2 separate regions of the Homo sapiens genome follow, and region 1 is linked to region 2. The links come from fine-mapping of genetic effects on gene expression. A gene starts in region 2. The other region holds a variant in brackets. All regions are shown on one strand. Distances are between the middles of the regions. Region 1 has its middle 110 kb from the start of TEX13D. Region 2 holds the start of SH2D1A (SH2 domain containing 1A).

What was found.
Region 1: its variant is fine-mapped to the expression of SH2D1A in whole blood (TOPMed, PIP above 0.99). The same link has a PIP of 0.9 or more in blood mononuclear cells.

What each region holds. Positions count from the first base shown.
Region 1 is chrX:124,215,571-124,220,951 of GRCh38, reverse strand. No RefSeq gene overlaps it. Among named protein-coding and RNA genes, the nearest start is that of TEX13D, 110 kb to the left of the region's middle. RefSeq lists an enhancer at 2,215-3,975. The variant A/G (reference allele first, on the strand shown) is at 3,176.
Region 2 is chrX:124,343,686-124,349,066 of GRCh38, reverse strand. It overlaps SH2D1A (SH2 domain containing 1A), which reads right to left and starts at 2,504. Exons shown (of 4, transcript NM_002351.5): 1 at 2,288-2,504. The coding sequence starts at 2,424.

The DNA.
Region 1 (5,381 bases), 130 kb after region 2:
AGGTCCTATGACCTATTTCAGGGGAAGAGCAGAAAACCTAGGAAGGATTTTGTTCAAAAGAACAAAGTTGGAGGGCCTACAACTTTGGATTTCCTTCCTAGGTTTTCTGACCTGCTTCAGAGGGAAAGGGCAGGGGGAAGATGGGAGTGACTTTCCCATTTCTGCTGTTTTCTCAAATGCAAAGATGCCATATTTTGAAGTAGCATGTACTGAACCCCATTAGCAGTTTTTTATAAAGCTAGAGATACACTTACCATATGACCCGGTAACCCAATGTCTAGGCATTTACCCAAAAGAAATGAAGATACACATTCACACAAAAGCCTGTAAGTAAATGTCTATAGCAGCTTCACTAATTATCACTCAAAGCTGGGAACAACCCAAATGTCCATCAGCTGGAGAATGGATAAACAAATTGTGACACATCCATACAATGGAATATTACTTGGCAATACAAAGGAATGAACTAACACATGGATGAATCTCAAAAGCACTGGAGGTTAAGGCAGGAGGATAGCTTGAGCCCAGAAGTTTGAGACCAGCCTGGGCAACATGGCAAGACTCTACCTCCACCAAAAAAAAAAAAGTTTAATTAACAGGGCATGGTGCCATGTGCCTGTAGTCCTAGCTACTCAGGAGGCTGAGATGGGAGGATTGCTTGAGCCCAGGAGTTGAAGGCTGCAGGGAGCTATGATTCTGCCACTGCACTCCAGCCTGGGTGACAAGAGTGAGACCCTGCAGAAAAGAAGAAAGAAAAGGAAAGAAAGAGAAGAGAAGAAAAGAAGAAAGAAAGAGAAAAAGAGAAGGAGAGAGAGAGAAAGAGAGAGAAGGAGTGACAGAGAGAAAGGGAGAAAGAGTGAAGGAGAGAGAGGAGAGAGAGAAAGAGAGAAAAGAAGTGACAGAGAGAAAAGGAGTGACAGAGAGAAAGGGAGAAAGAGTGAAGGAGAGAGAGGAGAGAGAGAAAGAGAGAAAAAGGGAAAGAAAGAAAAGACAGAAAGACAGAAAGAAAAAGAAAGAGAGAAGGAGACAGAAAGAGAGAAGAAAGAAAAAGAAAGAAAGAAAGAAAGAAAGAAAGAAAGAAAGAGAAAAGAAAGAAAGAAAGAGGAAGGAAAGAAGGAAGAAAGGAAGGAAGGAAGAAAGGCGTTATGCTAAATGAAAGAAGTCGACCTAAAAGAGTATATATTCTATGATTCCATTAATATGACATTCTGAAACTGCAAAACTGCTGGAATAGAAGATAGATCAGAGGCTGCCAAAGGTTGTGTATGGAGAGAGCAGACTGACCACAAAGAAGCACAAGAGAACTTATTGGGGTAATAAAAATATCCTGTCTTGATTGTGTTGGTGGTGACATAATAGGATATGTTTGTTGAAACTTATTTGCACTTTTAAAAGGAGAATTTTACTGTTTGAAAATTATACCTCAATAATCCTCACTTAAAAGAAGTTAATCCTATCTGTGAGCCTGAGGTAGAGAGGAGATCTATGAGGCTTTTCTTCCTTAATTTGCCTTCCATAATGATGGTATGCATGGTTGAGAGGAGTGTCTCACATTCATGAAAGACCTCCGTCCTTGCTTTGCTTGCCAGAATGCCAACTACATGGGAAGTTTGCCTTTTGGGTAACAGTAGGGCAAAGTGGATGTAGGGAAGAATGAGGGAAAGGGAGGAGAGTTAGCATTGCATAGCAGTTTAGAGCACAGATGTTGATAACAAGACCGATGTGGGTTCAAATTCCAGCTTTGCTATTTCTGAGCCGTGTGACCTTGGGTAACCTACTTAGTGTCTCTGAGCCTCGGTATCCTCATTTCTAAGACAGGAGCAGTAATACCGAGCTATCTCCCAGGGTCCCTGAGCAACTCAAATAAGCTAATATATGTGAAAGTATCTGGCACACATGTATAACACATGTGAGAGGGGATAATAAAAGAGGTAATGAATGTGAAAGTACTTGATAGATGATAACCATTCTTATTCCTAAATCAAAAGATGATCTGGGGTAGAAGGAGAGCAGTCTGGCTGATAGGAAAGATATGTGGGCGGTGTTGATGCCTCCCACCTGCAACCACATACAACTCTACTCTCCACTTCTGGCATTACCCATTTAGTGGGTGACCTACATTCCGGAATTTCCAGGACAGCCACAGATCTAGTCCTTCCCCTCAGGGGACCACGTGTCAGAGTTGGGGAAAGAGAGGGACTGTGGTCAAAGAACATATTCCTGGCCTCCCTGACCTGCACCCTCTGCATTTCTCTCCTTTCCTCTACTCGTCTTCAGTGGGGATTTGCTCAGACTTCTTTCATGTGAAATCAAACAGAACTAGAAAGGTAAATCTCCTGGGTGCAAAAAAAGGAAACAAAAAATCACCAGCTCCGTACAATACATTTGAACACCAAATAGAAATGGTTGAGAGATCACTGCCATTCTAGTTATCTGTGACACCCCTCCCCTCCCCACCACATCCCTTCTCCCGTCCTCCCCCATCCTCTCCCCCATCCTTTCTCCAGAGGTGGCTAGAGTTGAAAAAACATTTGTCTCTCAGCTGATCATCTGGGACTGAGGAGAAAGAGGAGAAAGCGAATGAATTATTTAAGTTCTGCAGTGTGTGTGTGTGTGTGTGTGTGTGTGTGTGTGTGTGTGTGTAGGGGGTTCAGCACCCCCCCCCTTTAATTAATGAACAATCTGGCCCATTGCTCCTCCCGTAAGTATGCAAAATAACTTCTTCATTTGAAATCCCTGTTGTTGAATGTACTCCTTGGGCACAATCACATTGCCGCCCCTTGTTCTGCATAAGAAACCGCTGTTTCCAAGATAAGAATCTTTTCATTTAGCTGTCATGAGCTCATCCTTTTTCCTGTGCATTGTGGCTCCTTCTCCTTTGAGTCAATACCCAAACAATGACTGCCTGTGCTCTGGCACCCTCCTACCCCCAGCCCCGGAAGACAGAAGGCTGAGGCCTCCGGAAGCCTGCCTAGGCAGGCAACCCAAATTCTTTTCAGGCCTCAGATGTCAAGAGGGCAAGCAATAAGAAGATCTGAGACCCCTGAAAATCTACTGGCTTTAAAGTAGACCCTGGGAAAGAAACTCTGAATAGTATGATGTGTGTGGTAGGGGGCGGACAGGCGCTGCCCTGAGATCATGAACTTAAACAGTCTGGGAAATGTAAGGAGAGGGA[A/G]TAAGGACCCACAAATGTGCAAAGCTGCTGTGTCTCTCTTCCTCTGTCCCTGATCAGCAGACTGCATCCTGTCCCTGCCCTTTGGTTTGGAACAACCACGCCCACAGCAGAAACCACACAATGGCACTTGCACTCCAATGAGAAACTAGAGAGGCCTCAGATTCTGTGGAGTCCAAACCCTTTCCTCATTCTGTATGCGGGTAAATTGAGGCTTAGGGAGGGGAAGCAGCTTGCCTAACAGCACTCAGATCGTTGAAGAGGTGGGTGCTAAAACTCCAGACTCATGCTGTTTATTCTACCACACATGGCTGCCTCTGGAGGGAATCAATAACATTTGTGTACAAAGCACTGAGGAAAAAGACAAGATAGGAGATTAAATTAGATCACAGTAAGCTACAAAGCCTATACAAACAGTAGGGGTTTTATTGCTAGCTTCCTCATTTATAGGCATTGTTTTCAAAAGATCCAGGAGAATAACAAAACTTAACCTTTACCAGTGAAAAAGGACTCTGCAGAAGGCAGTGAGTTTCCAAGACAAAATGTATGTAGTCACTTTACCTTGGGGAATGGGGCTACGTGGTCACATCAGCTCAGCACTCGCTCATTATTTCCACTTTGGGGAGAGGAAATAATGCACCAAAGAAGCTTTAATTAAGCTATAGGTAACTAACATGTGTCCAGCAGGAGGCCTGGGGCACTGAGGCCCACAAGAAATAAGAATAAGAAAGGTCCTGCCTTTAGAGAGGTTATAAGCTGTTCGATAAGCTGTCTGGTCTCTGCAATTTGATCAGAAGCCCCTTCAGGGCCAAGCCCGTGTATCCCTGGTAACTTCCAGGAGAGGAAAGAGTTCCCAGCAGGCGCCCCCTTGCTGATTGGCTGGTTAAGTGGCTAGAAAAGACCTCTCACGCTGATTCTGTTGTGTTCCCAGTGCAGCTTTTTCTCCACGTTTGGTGTAAAGGAACCTTTATTACATTTCAAACAAACGGTTCCCCTGTGGCCCTGAGAAAGCTCCAGTGATTCCCAGAATGTCTGGCCACCTGTGGCCTTCAAGGTGGCGGAGAGCATTTTCCTCTTAGCCACCAGAAGAAGTAATGTTTCAATGCCAGTAATGATGTTGCTAAGAAAAACCACAGTCAGAAGGAAAGTTTTCCCTCACCCTCCCATCAGTTTGGGGGCAGTCAGAAATCTCACATCCTAGATAGAAAAGCAGCAGAAGAGGAAGTAGGAGACTTGGGTGCCCATCCTAACTTGGCCCCTTATTAGTGGTTAGACTTCAACAAATCACTTCTATCTCTTGGCCTCAGTCTTTTCATCTGTAAAACGAGGGCATTGACTTGAGCAAAGTTTCCCAAACTAAGGTTTGGAAGTCTGAATCTTTTCAATTGTGGGGTTGGAGTGAGGGGTAGATATAATATAATAAAAGAGATACTTGGTAGCAAAAAGACAAGAAACAATGGACTGGATGAACATTTTTTGTTATAATATTTCATGATTCCAGGAAATCCAGTTTTTGTTCATGGGATTGGCTTTAAAATGAAACAGGTGTTTGTTATTTAAAACAACTTCACTTCCAATTAAATTGGGCAAATTGAACACATGCACTTATCTGAGCTCCTTCCTGAGATCCCACAAAAAAAGAACAGGGGATTAAAAGGCCAAATGCAGTGAGTACAAAGGAAAAAGGGGGAGAGGCTATAATAAGCAAGAAGCACACACGCGTGCATGCGTGTACATGTGCAAATATGGAAACTAGAGAATGGCTAAATGAGTGGTTTAGCAGATTAGAAAAAGCCAAAACCCAAGGATGCGGTTTATACTCCAAACCTCAAAAAGCTCAGGTTTTGAGGGTACCAGTTATCTCTGAAAGTGGGAGTTTTGGTATGGAGTTGAAAACAGGATGATAGATTGAACATGATGATAAGAAACAGCCCCCAAATCCCTCCCTCCATCCCAGCAGGGGAGAAAACATTTAAACCAAGCACAGCTGAGGGCCCACTGAGAAGCTATGTTGAAAACTGGGATTAAGTTGGAGTCTGCCTTCTGAACATTGAGACCTCCAGTCCCCATCCTTGACTCAGTTCCCAAAATACTGACAGCCAGGTTACACATGCCAAGCGGAAGATTGGAAGATTCCACTCTGGGAAACTGACTGAACCCAGAGAAATAATTCAGATGATACTGAAGAAGCAGGCAGGATGTCAAATGA
Region 2 (5,381 bases):
AATTTCTCACCTGCCTAAGTTAATTCCTCATGTGGTTCCGGCCTACATAGGCAAAAGTCTAAAGCTGCCCTTCTCTCTTGCATAAGGTACTTAAGGCAATCTTTTGCAGAAGGTAGGATACACATTACTATTCCTGTTTTATAAATATGGAAACTGAGTCCCAGAGAATTTGAGTGACTTTCCCAGAGTCCATACCCTAACCTCTCAATGGCCATTCCGTTTATTGCAGTAAAGAACAGAATTTGCCTTGACAGTTTGTTAATTCAAAAATATCTGCTGAGTGCCTATTATGTGTTCCTGTGTTTCTGGTGATGGAGACAGTATCTCCGCCCTCATGGAGATTATATTTTTGCAGGACAGCCCAGCAATAAGTAGGTAAACAAGCAAATTATCAGATAGTTTAAAGCTCTTTGAAGAAAAATAAAGAGATGGAGTGAGTGTATCAGGGACAGGGAGAGGGCACTTGTTCTAGATAGGTGGTCAAGCAAGTCCTCTCTGAGGGAGGAGACAGTTGAACAAACATGTGAACTGAAGGTATTTTGGGCAGAAGGAACAATAAGCGCAGAAATCCTAAGTGGGGGCATTTTTGAGGAGCTTGAGAAACGGCCAGGAGCCCCGTGAGGCTGAAGCCTTAGGTATATCTTGCCTCTCACTATACCCTGTTGTCCCTCCCCTGCCCAGACTTGTTTTGTACATTCTTTTTCACCTTTGGGTTAAGGAGCATGTTATCTCCTTTGTCAGCTTCCCTAAAGCAGCGCCTTTCACCCACCCACTCACTCCACCTTCTTTCAATGAGAAAAGAGCCTAAGAATCCTAGCTGGTTTTCATTGCCCTTCCCTAGGTTCCACACGGGAACAATAATTATATAAGCAAAACATAAAGATTCAAGCCCAAGACATTCAATAGCTTCCACGTATTTCCCTTGAAGCCTTTGTGAAAAATGTATTTAGCATGACCTGAGAGCTGCCACAAACAAGGCTTGACCGTTTTTAAAAAACAATATACAGTGAAAAATCTTCTAGCACCAGCATCAGGATAATCTTTCTTCACTGACCCATAAGGTATTTCAAACTCTTGTGGGGTATTATCAGATGCTGAACTTACTACCAAGCATTTAACCTCATTTGGTTTCTGTCTAGAACCTACAATGCAGGGCTGCTGTTTTCATGGATTTTTTTTTTTATCCTGCTGACAATAATGCCTGAGCTAGGTCCTTCCTTAGAAATGCCCCCATGATTCCTAAAAGAAATCAACTGAAAAGAGAAGATAAAATAATAATATATCTTTGGTATAATAATAATACCAATAGCTTACATTTATTGAACATTTACTAGGTGTCAGGCCCCAGTGCTAATTTTTTTACTGCATTATGGCACTTAATCTTACAATCCTATGAGGTAGGCAGTAATATGATACCTATTCAATGGATAAGAAAACTGGGGAACTGAGAGGTTAATTTGCCCAAGTCACAAACCTAACATCTGACGAGCACAGGACAAAGTCTCAGATCTGCCTGACTCCGGAGCCCTGGAGCAAAGACGCAGATGAATTTGATTCAAAATGAAGCCTTAGAATGAGACATGCCTAGGCAAATGGCAAAGCTGAATCATAACAAGGGTGTTTTCCCTCCATTCCCTTTAAGACTATTGTGAGTCCTAACGTTTATCAAGAAGGGTCCTATTTCTGAAATCCCCTGCCCCTCCCCACCCCCCACTACTTTTCTAAAGGATGCTACATCAGCAGATCCAGAGAGGTGATTTTACTGACACACATCCCCCTCCTCTCTCAGCATCTCGACCTAACTGGCATTGCATTCTTAAAGTAATTGACTCTGTTTCTTAATGTGCCTCCTCTCTCTGAATGTCATGCTCTTCCTTTGGGATGACACTTCAAAAGTCGTTTAAAGAGAGCTAGAGTAAGGCTCGCAGGGCGCCACCCGATAGGGGTCAAAATGGAAGTGGGGAGCCTGGGTCTTTCCCGGAGCGAAGGTAAACTGTGGACCACATTTCACCACCCGAAATGGCATTCTCTGCAGCTGCCCCAAAAGGCTCTGGTGAGGGCCTTCTGGAGAGCAGGAGGCCCAGGGAATGAAATCCCCAGCGAGGGATTGAGGCGAAAGTGTGTTCCACCACGGCCCTGGGCTGGACTTGAGGGTGGGCCACGGAGGAGGCGTCGGCGAGCTGCTAACGCCGGCGCCCCTGCCTGCCTCGGCCTCCACCCTGGCCCCAGCTGCTGTTGCCCACCGCCCACACCCTCAGCAGGCCCATGTCCACCGTATCATACTCACAGCACACATAGGCAGTACACGCCTGGCACGCTCTCGCTGTCCCTCAGCAAATAGCTGCCATCCAGCCCAGTGGCAAGCAGGAGCTTCTCGCCGGTTTCCCTGCTGATTTTGCCATGATACACAGCCACTGCGTCCATGGCCTGGTGGACTCTTGGGCAGGCCGAGGAGGAGAACTGTGCAAGGGAGATGCCGCTGCTACTGCAGCCAGGCACAAGTCAACCACCTGACTCCCAGTTCAGCCAGATGTGCAAAAAAGAGAGAAGCACCCCAACAACAGGATGTTGTCTACTTGCCTTAAACCTCCTTCTCACACTTCAGTTAAAACGAGCTCAGCAATTTAGTAGCTTGGTTCGATCGAGCTTGCCAAGGGCTTCCATCTTCTGCCCCCCAACACAGGGTTCATACAGAGAGGGGAGGAACATTGGAAGAAGGATTTTGCAAGATTGGGGCTGTACTGCCAACACACACCCTTGCACTCAGACGGGGATGCTTAGTAATGCTTCTGTTCTTGCGGTTTACTCAGAGGCCACCAGGAATAACTTAGCTCAACTAGCCCATAAGGAGTTGATGATAGAGGCAAGTTGTACATGTCTCTGTTGGTATGTGGACCCACTACGTAGGGCAAAAACACACTGACAAAATGAAAGGACCAAGAGCTCTGAGAACAAAACACTGATAGTTTTATCAGTACTGTCAGTATGCAATCATTACTGAACATGGCCATGAAGACTCCTACAGAATCAGACATAGTAGATGAACAGTGAACTCTGGGCAAGTTCTTCTTCTCCCTCTTCCTTCTACCTCACGCAGTCATCTTGAGAAGTCTTGATCCTGAGCAAATATTGATTTCTTTCCTAACACCTTGTCCAAGGTCCCAAAGTGCTAGTTGAGATACAAAAGTCACAATGTACATCCAAAGATGTTCCAGATGTATCTATTTGATGGGCTTTAGATGAGACTGTGAATCATTTAACTGGTGCTTTGCCTTTATGTGGATTTGTATGTGCCCTTTGGTGTACAGGGCCCACCTTTCAGCATTTTGTCCATAAAATCTGTTTTGAATCATTTGCAAGTTGTTGATAATTTTGTTGTAACTTTTATTCTCTGTTGTTTCTAGAAAATGTTATTTCTTCGATTGAGGCTAAACTGTCTTTAATATTTTAAAACCTTTCAACCTTCATTTTCTTCTCTGAAATAAAACATTGCTTCTATTTCAAAATGTGCTAGGTAATATTTCCGCAAAGCTTCCTGCATTTTCACTAGAGTAAGACTTTATTTATTGCTGAAGCTGAATGGTCTTGTACATGTACCTTTAGATTATGTAAAGTACTTTTAAAATTTGAATTTAAATAACTGAAGCTATGTCGTCTATTATATGCTTTCTGCAACTTCAGTGTGTAGTTCTTTGAGAATATGGCAAGGCTGGGAACTCAATAGCGAGAACGACACTTAATTCCTCACATGTCTTACCAATGGATTGGATGTACAGAGCTGACTTGCACCAAAGGCAGATATTTGCTCTTCATCTACTAGGATTAAGAACAATCCTCTAAGATTTCAGTGGTAGCTGGTAGCAACTTTTCTTCTTGATTGAAGAGTGTCCAGCCTTAGTATGCAAAGTATAAACATAAGTCTCCTACTAGTCATTTTCAGCATTAAGAATTTTTTTTTAAAGCATTCAAGGTGACATTTGGGGATGGCTCTGGGGAATGGGACCAATATTATTTTATCATCTTCCTTCCTCACATGTTTTTGACCAACTCCACCTCTTACCCCTTTTCATGCTTTGGATCAAGGAAGAAATTAATCTGATATATGAATGCATACTCCAACATTAAGGATTTGAAAGGTTGTCCACCTTGGGCTCTCCATATATTGAGCAGGCAAATGGTTAGCCCAGAGGAATTAATCAAAATGGTGGAATTTCAAATAGAAAGGAGACAGGGAAAGGGATCCCTTTATATCAGTCCATATGAGCAACAGCTGACCTGTGAGGTGAACTGTGAGAACATTCAGTGTCACATAAGTGAAAACAAAACCTAACCTTTTTTTGTCTCTTAACAACTCTGAACAAATCATCCATAAACTTAGGAACAGAGCAACCTGGATCTGACAGCACAAGCGTACCATGCACTCTTTTTTTCTTTCTCTGTTTTGTTCCATGTTGCTAAAATAGCACACCTGTCAAAGCAGCCAGGTATGACGGGGTTCAGCACAACTAAAATTGCACTAAAAAACAGATAAATTATAAGGTAATAGTACAACTTTCACATCCAGTACCTCATTGTCATCTTACAAGCAAGCTGACAGCTGAGCCAGCCGAGCCAGCCCACTAGTGCAGTGTTGATGAAAAATACTGACATCTTCACTCTAATCCTACACCAGTACTAAACCTGACTTTAGCAAATTCAAAACTTCACACTGAGCTTGAAGCGTAGAGAAAAGAGGAATTGAAATGACTCTCTTCCTTCTCTCCCCATACACACGAGAGGAAATGGGAGAAAATGAAAGAGGAGAGCAATGGAGATAGTAGAGGCACCAACAGAGAAAGAGTTAGGAAGAATGGACCCCAAGTACAAGTATAAACCACTTAGGAGCAGAATTATTTAATTAATGGTTTATCGTCTGTGTCCCCCACTAGAATGTAAGGTCCATGATGGAGGGATTTTGTGTACTTTGCTCACCACTGTATCCTGTGTCTGGCAAGTAGTAGGTGCTATATATATTTGTTGTGTGAATGAATGAATGAATGAACTTAATGCTCTCAATAAAAGAAAAAATACTGAAATTCTCTTTTACACTCACGCACACACACACACACACACACACAATATTGGTTCTACATGCCTATGGTCGTCTTTGAAATGACAAGATGAATTGGAAGGAGCAGTAGTCCAGTAAGTAGGAGAGTTGAAATATATGCCATGTTTTGCCACTAAATCACTTCTCTCTGAGTCTCATTTTCTCCATCTGTCAAATGGAATTGAACCAGATGACCCCTAAGGTCACGTCTAGGTTTAACATTCTATTCTCTAAACAAAAGCCAAATGTGTTTTAGAGAGAAACAGAGGGGAAATGAATTGAACTTATTTGT